Regions from separate parts of the Homo sapiens genome. Here region 1 is linked to region 2. Evidence: fine-mapped expression QTL. A gene starts in region 2. The other region holds a variant in brackets. All regions are shown on one strand. Distances are between the middles of the regions. Region 1 holds the start of LOC124904768 (a long non-coding RNA gene). Region 2 holds the start of TSEN34 (tRNA splicing endonuclease subunit 34).

Region 1 (5,358 bases), 28 kb after region 2:
CTTTACGTCTGTTTTTGTTTTTTGTTTTTTTGTTATTAACTCATTGATTGTTGAGAAGTCTGTTGCTTTATTTCCAAAATGGGACGATATTAGTCATCTTTGAGTCAGGTGAGTCCCACAAGTTCCCAGCGTCTCCTCATGGTCTGTGTTAGGGGTCCAGGCTGACTGGGGTTCACTGGTGTCCACTGGGGGCAGCTCCCGTGCCTTCAGCAGTCCTGAGTCTCCTTCTGCTGAGTGTGGGGTCTGCGTACCCCCCGGGCTAGTGGATGGCCAGAGTGGCGTAGATGCTGGGCTCAGCTGGAGGTTCCCCTTCCTGGGATGGAGGAGGCTCAGTTGCCTTCCGTCTAAGGGTCAAGCTGTGCAGCTGGGCGTAGGTCACATCCTGGGAGGCTTCAGATGCAGCAGCCTGCAGCGGGGGAGAGTGAGAGGTAAGGAACGTGGTGGGGGTGGGGGAGGCCTGGGGGCCTGGAGAGGAAAGGACTCACCTCAGTGTCCATCTGCCTGTCCTCTTCCACCTGTCTGTCCTTTGTGTCCAGGAATTCCCCAGACAGTGAGGAGGGAGGAGAGGCCATTTCTCTCCTAGGACTGGAGTGTTTCACCGGGGCATACGTCACTGCCTGGGGGTCTTCATCGTGTGGGCTCTGCTGGAGAGAGACAGTGGTGGGGGGTGTCCTTGAGTCCCCCTGACCTCCTGGAGTCAATTTTCCTCACTGTTCCCGGGGTGATCCGATTACATCCCTTTCCTGATGGAATCTCAGGGACGCCCTAAGGCCGTGGAGGGTCTGGCCGCTCCCTCCCTGTGGTTCTGGCCTCTGCTCCTCACTCTGACCTTGCCCATTTGGCTGCAGCCTCACAGGCCTTCCTGCAAGAGCTCGCTGCTGCCTGGGGGCCTTTGCACGGCTGTTTCCTCTGCCTGCAGGGGCTCGTCCATCAGAGGATCATGTGCCCCACTCTGTCCAGGCTTCTCAGATGACAGCTGAGCAGACAGCCCTCCCCTTCCATTCAGACTGGCCCCACTGCCCCACACTCTCTGCCCTTTCCCTGGTGTATGTTCCTTACAGCACGTTGCACTCCTGGACACGATGCATTTATTTGCATTTTGTCTCCCACCGTGAGGTGAGCTCAGGAGGCGGGGGCGGCTTTGCTCCCTGCTGTGTCTGCAGCTCCCATGGGGAGCCCCATCCACAGTGAGCTCCCTGGGAACACTCGCTGGATGAATGAATGAAGAGGAGCCCAGGGGACGGAGGTGGTTCATTTATTCGTCATCCTCCTGAGGCCTGGGGAGAGCTCTAACAACCAGACGGCCAAACAGAGGATGAGGAGCAGGAAGGGGACCCGGGAGGAGGCCCACGAGGTCCCAGGACAGCAGAAGAGAGTGAGGTCACAGCAGGCGGGAGGCAGCATGCTGGACAAGGAGGGGTCCACCGTGACGATGCTGAGAGCCGGGGGAAGGAGGACAGAGAAGTCCTGCAGGATTAGATCTGGCACCAGGAGGCCTTTGGTGCCTGGGACGGGGCGGGATCTCACCTGACTGTCCAGCTCCACCCTGTCCTCAGACTGTGTGTCCTTCACAGCAGCATCTGCTGGGGCAGAGCAAGGGGTTCGTCTCCTGGTTCTCTGAGACCTCTCAGTCCTGCTGGCCCCCTGCCCTGCTCCCAGATGGGGCCACCGAATGCAGGGAGGTCCCACAGTGTGGGGCAAGACCATCTTCCACGGAGCCCCAGACCCTTCCCAGCCCCTCCCTGTTGCTACTGAAATTTTGGGACTCCTGTCTCTCCAGCACCCCCATTTGTCCCCTCTCTTCCTCTTACAGAGGTTTTCTTCCTGGACGTCAGCAGCTGGGCTGGACCTGGAGGAGGACATGGGAGTGTGAGGGGCAGTGTATGGGCTGTGGTGGGTGGGAGTCTGTGGTCTTTGGGGCAGAATTACCTCCTCAGCAGGCCCCTGTCCTTGGGCTCTGTCTCCGCAGCCCCTGCAGGACGCTGGAAATCAGTCTTTCTCTGGTCTGGGTGAAGATGGACAGAGTCTCAGCCCTGGGAACATTAGAACTCCCATTCTACACATGCAACTTGAGGGAAAGAAGGAAAACTAAAAATATTCCTGCATGGATGTTCCAAATATTTTATGAGATAGAAAAAAACTCCCATGAATACTGAAGTTTGTAAATGCGTATTGAAATTACGTGCCCCTGGAACCGGTTTTCTAAACTGACACCCCTGTGTGTTTGGGTTCCCTCTGGCTGGTGCCCTGAGCCCACCCTCGGTCGACCCATGGGTCCCCCGCTTCCCTACTCACCAGATGTCCTGTGTTTGCTGTGACGCTGACGGAGGAGGAGGAGGAAGAGGAGGAGGAAGAGCAGCAGGACGAAGGCCACCGAGACCCCAATCAAAACCTCCAGGTATCTTCCCAGACCTTGACATGAGGACGTCAGGAGTGGGAATGATGTCATTGATGTGAGCACCTACTGTGTGCAGGCGCGAGCCAGGTCTTTCCTTCGTGACCTCCAACCCTCACAAGCAGTCGTGCAACATGGAATTGCCACCCGTACAACCCATTTCACAGATGCACAAACTGAGGCTCAGAGCAGGGAGTCGCCTGCCCCAGGCCTCCAGCGAGGAAGCGGCAGAGCTGGGAAGGGAGCCCGGGAGTCTGACCTGCAGCCCTTGTTCCTGCACCAGAGCCGAGACCCGGAGCTGCAGGGAAAGAGCCTGACCGTCCTGAACCACGGCCCTGCTCCCCTCCCCTGCCCCAGGTCACCGTCACTGCTGCAGGTGGGACGGGACAGGCCCCTGTGGAATCGGGTCTGGGAGGTTCCCTGGGAGGCCTCCTCTCCCAGGAGGTCACAGCTGGGGGTCAGAGCTGAAAGGAACTTTCCCACCCACAGGCCTCTCTCCTTTACACTTGGAGAAACTGAGGCCCAGGCAGGGGAGGGGCCTGTCCACATCACCACCTCCAGAGGAGCCTGAACCTAGGACAGAACCCACCCCTGCCTCCCCTGGACCCCGCCCA[T/C]CTCCCACTCAGAGCCCCTCACTCACCATTCTGAGGGCCTGACCCTGGGGGGTTAAGGGGCTGGTCCTCAGGACCTCCTGGGTCAGGACAGGGAGGTGAAGGCTGGGGCTGTCTTGCCCCCCACATCAGCCCGGCTCCTCCTCCTGGCTGGGCCCCAACATCTCCCTCTGCCTCGACCCCCGCCCCTCACCAGCCCAGCCTCAGAGCCCCTGGGACACAAGCCCGTCCTTGAGGGGAGGGGAGTGGGATCCTTTGGGAGACTCAGACTGCCCTGGGGGAGGCGGCGCTCCCCAAGAGGCCTCAGTGACTCACCAGGTGTGGAGGGCGGCCCTGTGGGTGGGAGGCTGGAGCCTCCAGAGTGTCCTGGAAGGAGCACGGGAGGCGGGTGAGGGGCGGGGGCCGTCCATGGAGTGCACCCTTCCACTCCCACTCTCCTGCTTCCGCCCAGTGGATTCCCTGGAACCATCTCTCTGCCCACCTGGTGCCTTCTGCATGCCAGGCAGGGGAGAACGGGTGGCCACGCCTAGGAGAACCCCTGTTGGCCTCCTCCCCTCTGAGGGCTGGGTGCCCTCTGGCTAAGCCTCCCTCACAGCCTCCCTCGGTCCATCCCAGCCGAGAGCTCTCCTGGGGGCCTGGGCCGGAGCTGAGCCTTTGAGCTCAGAGAGGACGGGGTCAGCGCCCTCACCTGAGACCATGAGTTCCAGGGGCTCACTGGGGAAAGACAGCAGGTGGGGGTTGGAGCTGCGTGAGCCGTAGCACCTGTAGGTCCCCGCGTGGGCTGAGGTCACAGGACTCATGGGGAATTCAGCCTGGTACTTATGAGCTCCGTACATTGATCTCAGACGCAGTGGGGGATGGGCTGCCCCTTCTTTGGTCAGAAGGAAAGTGTCAAAATACCCCCGTGACTGACACAGCAGGGTCATGTTCTCTCCTGAGGCCACTGTGGGGCCCGGCTGTGCTGACAGGGAGACGGTGTCATAGATCTGTCCTGGAGAGAAGAAGGATGGGTGAGGGGCTGCCCCACCTTGCTCTGAGCTGACACCTCCCCAGGCCTCTCCCTGGGACCCTCAGTGTCTCTGTCCCTGTTTTCTCTGAGTCTCCCCTCCCCCCATCCCCTGTCTCTGTCTGTCTCTCCCTCCCTTGGGACCCCCACCCCTCATCCCGGCCATCACCACCTGGGCTCCCCCGGCAGGGCCTGTGCAGAGCCTGGGTCCCTGACTGAACCCGCTGGGCTCCTCACCTGTGATCAGGATGTCCAGGGGGTCACTGGGGGCCGACCACTCGGAGGAGAGGTTGTGTGCACCATAGCACCTGTACTGGCCCCCGTAGGAGCGGCTCACAGGGCCCAGGGTGAAGTTGGCCTGGGAGAGCCCAGCCTGGGGCTGCTGGCCAGGGCGCTGGAGGAAGTCACGTTCCCCCTCCTTATACAGAACAAATCTGTCGTAGCCGACATCAGAGCCACACTGGAGGGTCAGGCTCTGCCCAGGGGCCAGGACAGGGCCCTGCAGGGTCAGGAGGGAGGGCTTCCTAGACACGCCTGGAGGGAAAGAGGAGCCAGGACTGAGAGGGCTGGTTCCTCCCACGCCCCTTCCTTCTCCCGTCCTGGCCCTGCAGGTCTCACTGTCTCTCACGCTCTGAGTCTCTGACCCCAGGGCCTCCTTCTCACCCGGGGCTGTCTTGGAGTCATTTCAGAGGAGTGGGGTCTCCCTAGCCCTGGCCACTGTGCCTGATCTTTCCTCCTCTCCCTGAGAGCTGGGACCTCACAGCAAACACACCGATGCCTTCCTGAGTCCTCCCCTTCCAGGTGAACGTGGTCAAGGGCTCCTCCTCCCATGTCAGAGCCTCCCCATGGGGTCTCCCTCATGCCTTCAGCCCGTCCTTCAACACATCACTCTGGGTCCTTTCCAGATTCAGTCACCAGCCAAACTCCCCACAACCTGTCAGCTGCCCCGAAAGTGTGTTAGACAAGGCCGTGGCTCCCTCACCTGAGGGCAGAATCTCCAGGGGGTCACTGGGGTGGGACCACACCCAGGGGGTGTTTGTATAATAGTAATAGCATGTGAACCTCCACCTGTGGCTGGGGGTCACGGGGCCCACAGGGAACAGGGCCTGGAACCCCCCACTGTGGAGCTGCTGTGAGTCCAGGGTCCGGGGGAGCTGGTGTTCTCCTTCCTTCATCAGAACAAAATGGTGATATCCCTTCTGTGAGCCACATCGGAGGGTCATATTCCCCCCTGAGGCCACCACAGGGCTGGGCAGGGCTGAGAGGGTGGGTTTGTTGTAGAATCCTAGGAGAGAAAGAGGCACCGTGTTAAATGGGGCTCCCACCTCCCACATCATCCCCAGGGC
Region 2 (5,358 bases):
TCCCTCTTCGAGGATCCAGGAACCCAGCCTTCTAGACCCCAGTTTTTGAGGATGATGGAGTATGAGCCTCAGCTCCTCTCCTTTGAGAACCTAGCAACCCAGACTCCAGCCCCTTCCTCCTTGGAGGAGACAGGAATCCACCCCCAGCCCCTCCTTTGAGCGCACAGGCCTCCAGCTCTCCTGTCCTTGGAGAACCCAGGAAAGTGTGGGGATCTCCCAGCACCCAAGCCCCTCCTTTGCGAACGCAGAAATCAAAGCTACTCCCCGCACCCATACTGGGGACCCAGATTTGAAGACGCCCCTCTTTTAAAAACCCAGAAACGGCACCCCTCCCGGACCCTTCCTCTTCGACAGCCCAGGAATCTAGACCTCCGAGCCCCCTCTTCCAGCGAGGATCCAGGAACCCAGACCCCCTCTTTGGATCCCCCATCCCCCGGCCCTTGTGAAACCAGATATCCGGACCCCCCAGCCCTTCTCCTTCGAGACCACCCAGAGGAGCCCGGGTCTCCAACCTGCACCTCCTTCGGAGCTCCACACCCCTCTCCTACTGAGAACCCGGGGATCGAACACCCTCCCCTCCCCAGGCCCAGGCCCAGGCCCAGCCCCAACCCGTCCCGCGCACCCCAGCGCATCCCCGGCAGAGCCACAGGCGGTTGCGCCAGCCCCGAGTTCCAACGCGCCTCCGGGGCCGCCCCGCACCCGCCAGCCCGCAGAGACCCTGCCGCCGTGTAACCTCGCCTCGCCACTGGGCGCCGCCACCCTGGCCCACCTGAGCTGCTCGCCGGGCAGGAGGCGGCCGAGCAGTCCCAGCCCGCTTGCCGCCGCAGCTCCGGCCACGCCTCCCCCGCCCAGCGCGCCCCCGCGCCGCCTGCTCCTTCTGGGCGCCCGCCGGGCTGCGCAGATCAGGCCGGGGAAGAAGCCACGGTCAGGGCCCCGGGCGGGCAGGGAAGAAGCCCCGGAGCAGAAGCCGAGAGCGCGAGTCGGCAACGGGATTCGAGTCCAGGTCCACACTGGGATCCGAGCTCCGAGTACGTGAAGGGGCGGGCCTTCGGGCTCGGAACAAGGAGGAGCCAAAAGCTTTGGACCCGAAGGGGAACAGACGGGCTCTGGAAAGGAGGCGGGGTCTGGAGCTCGGCGTGAGGAATGAGGCGGGGTCTCCCTTCGGGTTCCTTCGGGCACAATCGGGAGCTTGAGTTCTCCGGAAGCGGGGCCACAAACTTCGGCTCACTTCGGCAATAGTCGAGAACGGAGAGCTGAGGCCACTGTGGGCGGAGCCACATGTTTCGGCTTTCTTCGGAGGTAGTCGAGTCCTTAGGGTCACTGTTCCGATGTGGGCGGGGCCACAGACTCGGCCGGATGTGGGTGGGGCCACAAGCTTCGGTTTACTTCGTAGATAGTTGGGTACAAGTGACGCTAGGATGATAGGCGGAGTCAACAGGTTCGCCAGACACCCATGAGTATTTACAAGGGGGCGGGGCGAAAGCGACTTGCCCTCAAAGGGGCGGAACCCCGAGGGCCGGCGTGCGCCTACGGGACCGGGCCAGGATGACGATCCTCAAGTTCCCAAGTAGAGGAGAGGAAGCGGCAGAGGGAGGTGCGCTCAGTGGGGCGGAGCCAAGGTGGCCCCCGCGGGAGGAGGGCGGGGCTTCGGTCCTGCGAGGGGCGGGACCTGACTTCCCGCGGCGCTGATGGGGCGGGATGACGAAGTTGACGAGGGTGTCGGCATGAGGGGGTGGAGCAAGGAGCGCGTGGCGCGGTGCGCAGTGGGTGGCTCCACCTCGACTGCGAATTACTGTTTATGAGGTGACTCGCTGGTTCTATCGGTGGACAGTGGGACATTCTGAAGGGAGGCAAGGAGGCGGACTGAGCGCTCCCAATTGGGGTGAGCCCGCCCGAGCGGAGAGTGGACGGCGGGTGTCCAGGGGGCGGGGCTTTCGGCTGTGGGGTTCGGTCGTAGGGCGGGAACTCCCCAACTGGGGTGCGCTGGCGCTCGGAGGGGGCGGGGCCACAGGCCGCGAGGCTGCCGGGAGCCGATGACGCCCGAACGCCGAACCTATTGCGTCCGGGAGGAGGCGGGGCTACGGATTCGGCCGAGCCGAGAACACCCGAACGTCAAATTGCTGGCGTTCGAGAAGGGGGCGGGGCTGCGGATTCGGTGGAGCCGAGGACGCCCGAACGCCGAACTTCCTGTGCTCGGGAGGGGGCAGGGTTTTGTACTGTGGGAGTCTGAGAGCGAGGAGGTCCGAAAGCCGAATCACAGTCGTTCGGAAAGAGGAGGAGCGAAGGCTCGAGCGTCCGGAAGAGGGTGTGGCCTCGGCGGTGCCTTAGCCTCCAGAGCTTCTGACCGCTGACGGGAACACCCGAAGGGGGACGCCCACTTTGCAAGAGGGTGGTGCCAAAATGGACCTTTGTAAGGGGGCGTGTCGCCGCGCTTGCGGAGGTTTGTTTTTCACGCTCCAAGGCGCAATGGTAGGTACGGCAGTGCGGGCACAGAGCGGGTGCCGACCGCAGGGTCACAAGGGTAGAGCGGGACCCTGGGGGCTTGGCGAGGGGAGAGGGTCGGGGGCTTGTCTCCGGCGTCTCGTCTCCGGCGGCCGCGAGGCCTGGTGGGATCGCCCGGGGGCGGGGCCTGGCGCTCGGGCCCAGCAGGTGGTGAACGGCGGCTGAGCGAGGCCCCGCCCCCTGAGGCCTAGGGGCGGGGCTTCGCCGAGACCCCGGAGGCTTTGGGTGCGCTGCAGCGGTCCGCGGCGCGCAGCTGTTTCGGTAACTGCTTTGCCTCCCGGCTCCCGCAGGAGGATGCTGGTGGTGGAGGTGGCGAACGGCCGCTCCCTGGTGTGGGGAGCCGAGGCGGTGCAGGCCCTCCGGGAGCGCCTGGGTGTGGGGGGCCGCACGGTAGGCGCCCTGCCCCGCGGGCCCCGCCAGAACTCGCGCCTGGGCCTCCCGCTGCTGCTGATGCCCGAAGAGGCGCGGCTCTTGGCCGAGATCGGCGCCGTGACTCTGGTCAGCGCCCCGCGTCCAGACTCTCGGCACCACAGCCTGGTAAGGGGGCGGGGCTCGAACTCGGGTTCGGTGGGAGCGGGACCTGGGAGTCAAGTTTCCTGGCTTCTGAAGGGACCATAAGCTTGGAGGTTCCAGCGAAGTGTGCTTCTCAGGCCCTGACATCCTTCAAGCGCCAGCAAGAGGAGAGCTTCCAGGAGCAGAGCGCCTTGGCAGCTGAGGCCCGGGAGACCCGTCGTCAGGAGCTCCTGGAGAAGATTACGGAGGGCCAGGCTGCTAAGAAGCAGAAACTAGAACAGGCTTCAGGGGCCAGCTCAAGCCAGGAGGCCGGCTCGAGCCAGGCTGCCAAAGAGGATGAGACCAGTGATGGCCAGGCTTCGGGAGAGCAGGAGGAAGCTGGTGAGCATGGGAGGTGGAGTCCAGGGACCACGGGAAGGAGAGGAGAGATCTTTTAGGAATTTTAGCTGGGAATCCAGTGCCTGGGTCTCCCTGAGGGTGAGAAGACTTTACCCCTTGAATTTACCAAACTCTTCTCTGTACTCCCCACCAGGCCCCTCGTCTTCCCAAGCAGGACCCTCAAATGGGGTAGCCCCCTTGCCCAGATCTGCTCTCCTTGTCCAGCTGGCCACTGCCAGGCCTCGACCGGTCAAGGCCAGGCCCCTGGACTGGCGTGTCCAGTCTAAAGACTGGCCCCACGCCGGCCGCCCTGCCCACGAGCTGCGCTACAGTATCTACAGAGACCTGTGGGAGCGAGGCTTCTTCCTCAGTGCGGCTGGCAAGTTCGGAGGTGACTTCCTGGTCTATCCTGGTGAGTATGGGTTGGGGCCTCTGGTTGCTGTGCCTTTCCATACGATCCCAATGTATTCTGCGTTTTTCTTTTTTTTTTTTTTTGTCTTAATAGAGGTGGGGTCTCTTGTTGCTTAGGCTGGTCCCTATTCCTGGGCTCAAGCAATCCTTCCACCTCGGCCCCCCAAAGTGCTGGAATTATAGGCCCAGCTGCATTTTTCTTTTTTGTCTCACTTTCTCTTAGCCTCTGAAATTCATAGACAGACAGGAAACATTTGGGAGCTCCCGAACTCATTGGGCAAGCAGTTTAACGACTTTTATTAAATGATTACTGTGATCCAGAAGATTCACTTAGAAGTAGTTAGACATCAGGCTGGGCGCAATGGCTCACGCCTGTAATCCCAACACTTTGGGAGGCCAAGACAGGTGGATCACCTGAGGTCAGGAGTTTGATACCAGTCTGGCCAACATGGTGAAACCCCATCTCTACTAAAAATACTAAAACTAACTGGGCGTGGTGGTGGGTGCCTGTATTTCCAGCTACTCGGGAGGCTGAAGCAGGAGAATCATGTGAACCCAGGGGGCAGAGGTTGTAGTGAGCCAAGATCGTGCCATTGCACTCCAGCCTGGGGGACAAGAGCGAGACTTTGTCTCAAAAAAAAAAAAAAAGCCTAGAAGTGGAATAGTTGTGTCCAAGAGCATCTGTTTTAGAGTATCTATAGTGATGGCTGAAATGATCTCAGATCTCCTCCCAGTGGTCGTTCCCGTGGCGTCCAGCCGTCTGCCATTGGTCACTGCTTCAGTGCCTCTCTCCTTCCCCCAGGTGACCCCCTCCGCTTCCACGCCCATTATATCGCTCAGTGCTGGGCCCCTGAGGACACCATCCCACTCCAAGACCTGGTTGCTGCTGGGCGCCTTGGAACCAGCGTCAGAAAGACCCTGCTCCTCTGTTCTCCGCAGCCTGATGGTAAGGTGGTCTACACCTCCCTGCAATGGGCCAGCCTGCAGTGAACTCCAGAGACCTAGGGGATGTGGCTGTGTCGGCAGCAAGAGCCTTTCTGGATGTTCCCCAGCTCTTCTCTGGGAGTCTAGAACATCCTCCTACCTTTCTCCGCGGTTAGTTTTTGATTCCAGGTTTTCGAACACTACATCTTTTTTATGTTCTTCCTTGTTTCAAAGCACTTATTGGCTGTGTTTTTGTAGTTACCTATTTTCACACTGTGAGCTTCCCGAGAATGGGGCCTGGGTTTGATTCATCTGTTTTCTACAGGGTTTAAGTCTCAGGAGGTCTCAATAAACTTGGTATATAAATGTTCATGATTTGAATGTTTGCGACAGTCCTGGAACCCGTGGATGGTCTCATCTGCATGTACAGGTGAGAAAAAGGCCTGGAGGAGGGGGACTGACTTGCCCAAAGTCACACACTTAGTAAATAGCAGGCCTGGCCTTTCAAAATTGGTTTTTCTGACTCCTAAATCTGCACTCTTTCTACCTCACTAAACTTCCTTTTGAAAAGATTTCTATGAAATTTCCCAGATGCATACAAACGTTATAAATAAAAATATAGGCTGGGCA

What was found. PIP is the estimated chance that this variant, and not a neighbour inherited with it, causes the effect.
Region 1: its variant is fine-mapped to the expression of TSEN34 in whole blood (TOPMed, PIP above 0.99).

Annotation. Positions count from the first base shown.
Region 1 is chr19:54,216,834-54,222,191 of GRCh38, forward strand. It overlaps LILRB3 (leukocyte immunoglobulin like receptor B3), which reads right to left. Exons shown (of 13, transcript NM_006864.4): 4 at 4,995-5,297; 5 at 4,250-4,546; 6 at 3,695-3,997; 7 at 3,322-3,372; 8 at 2,296-2,412; 9 at 1,930-2,005; 10 at 1,812-1,849; 11 at 1,528-1,580; 12 at 486-641; 13 at 1-406. The coding sequence ends at 260. It overlaps LOC124904768 (a long non-coding RNA gene), which reads left to right and starts at 2,062. Exons shown (of 3, transcript XR_007067339.1): 1 at 2,062-2,771. RefSeq lists enhancers at 52-888, 889-1,724. The variant T/C (reference allele first, on the strand shown) is at 3,010.
Region 2 is chr19:54,188,569-54,193,926 of GRCh38, forward strand. It overlaps TSEN34 (tRNA splicing endonuclease subunit 34), which reads left to right and starts at 2,740. Exons shown (of 4, transcript NM_001077446.4): 1 at 2,740-3,039; 2 at 3,153-3,396; 3 at 3,548-3,805; 4 at 4,607-5,358. The coding sequence starts at 2,797. The coding sequence ends at 4,794. MBOAT7 (membrane bound acylglycerophosphatidylinositol O-acyltransferase MBOAT7) reads right to left here and starts at 1,012. Exons shown (of 8, transcript NM_024298.5): 1 at 770-1,012. RefSeq lists enhancers at 340-1,025, 1,026-1,707, 3,676-4,192 and a silencer at 2,630-2,831.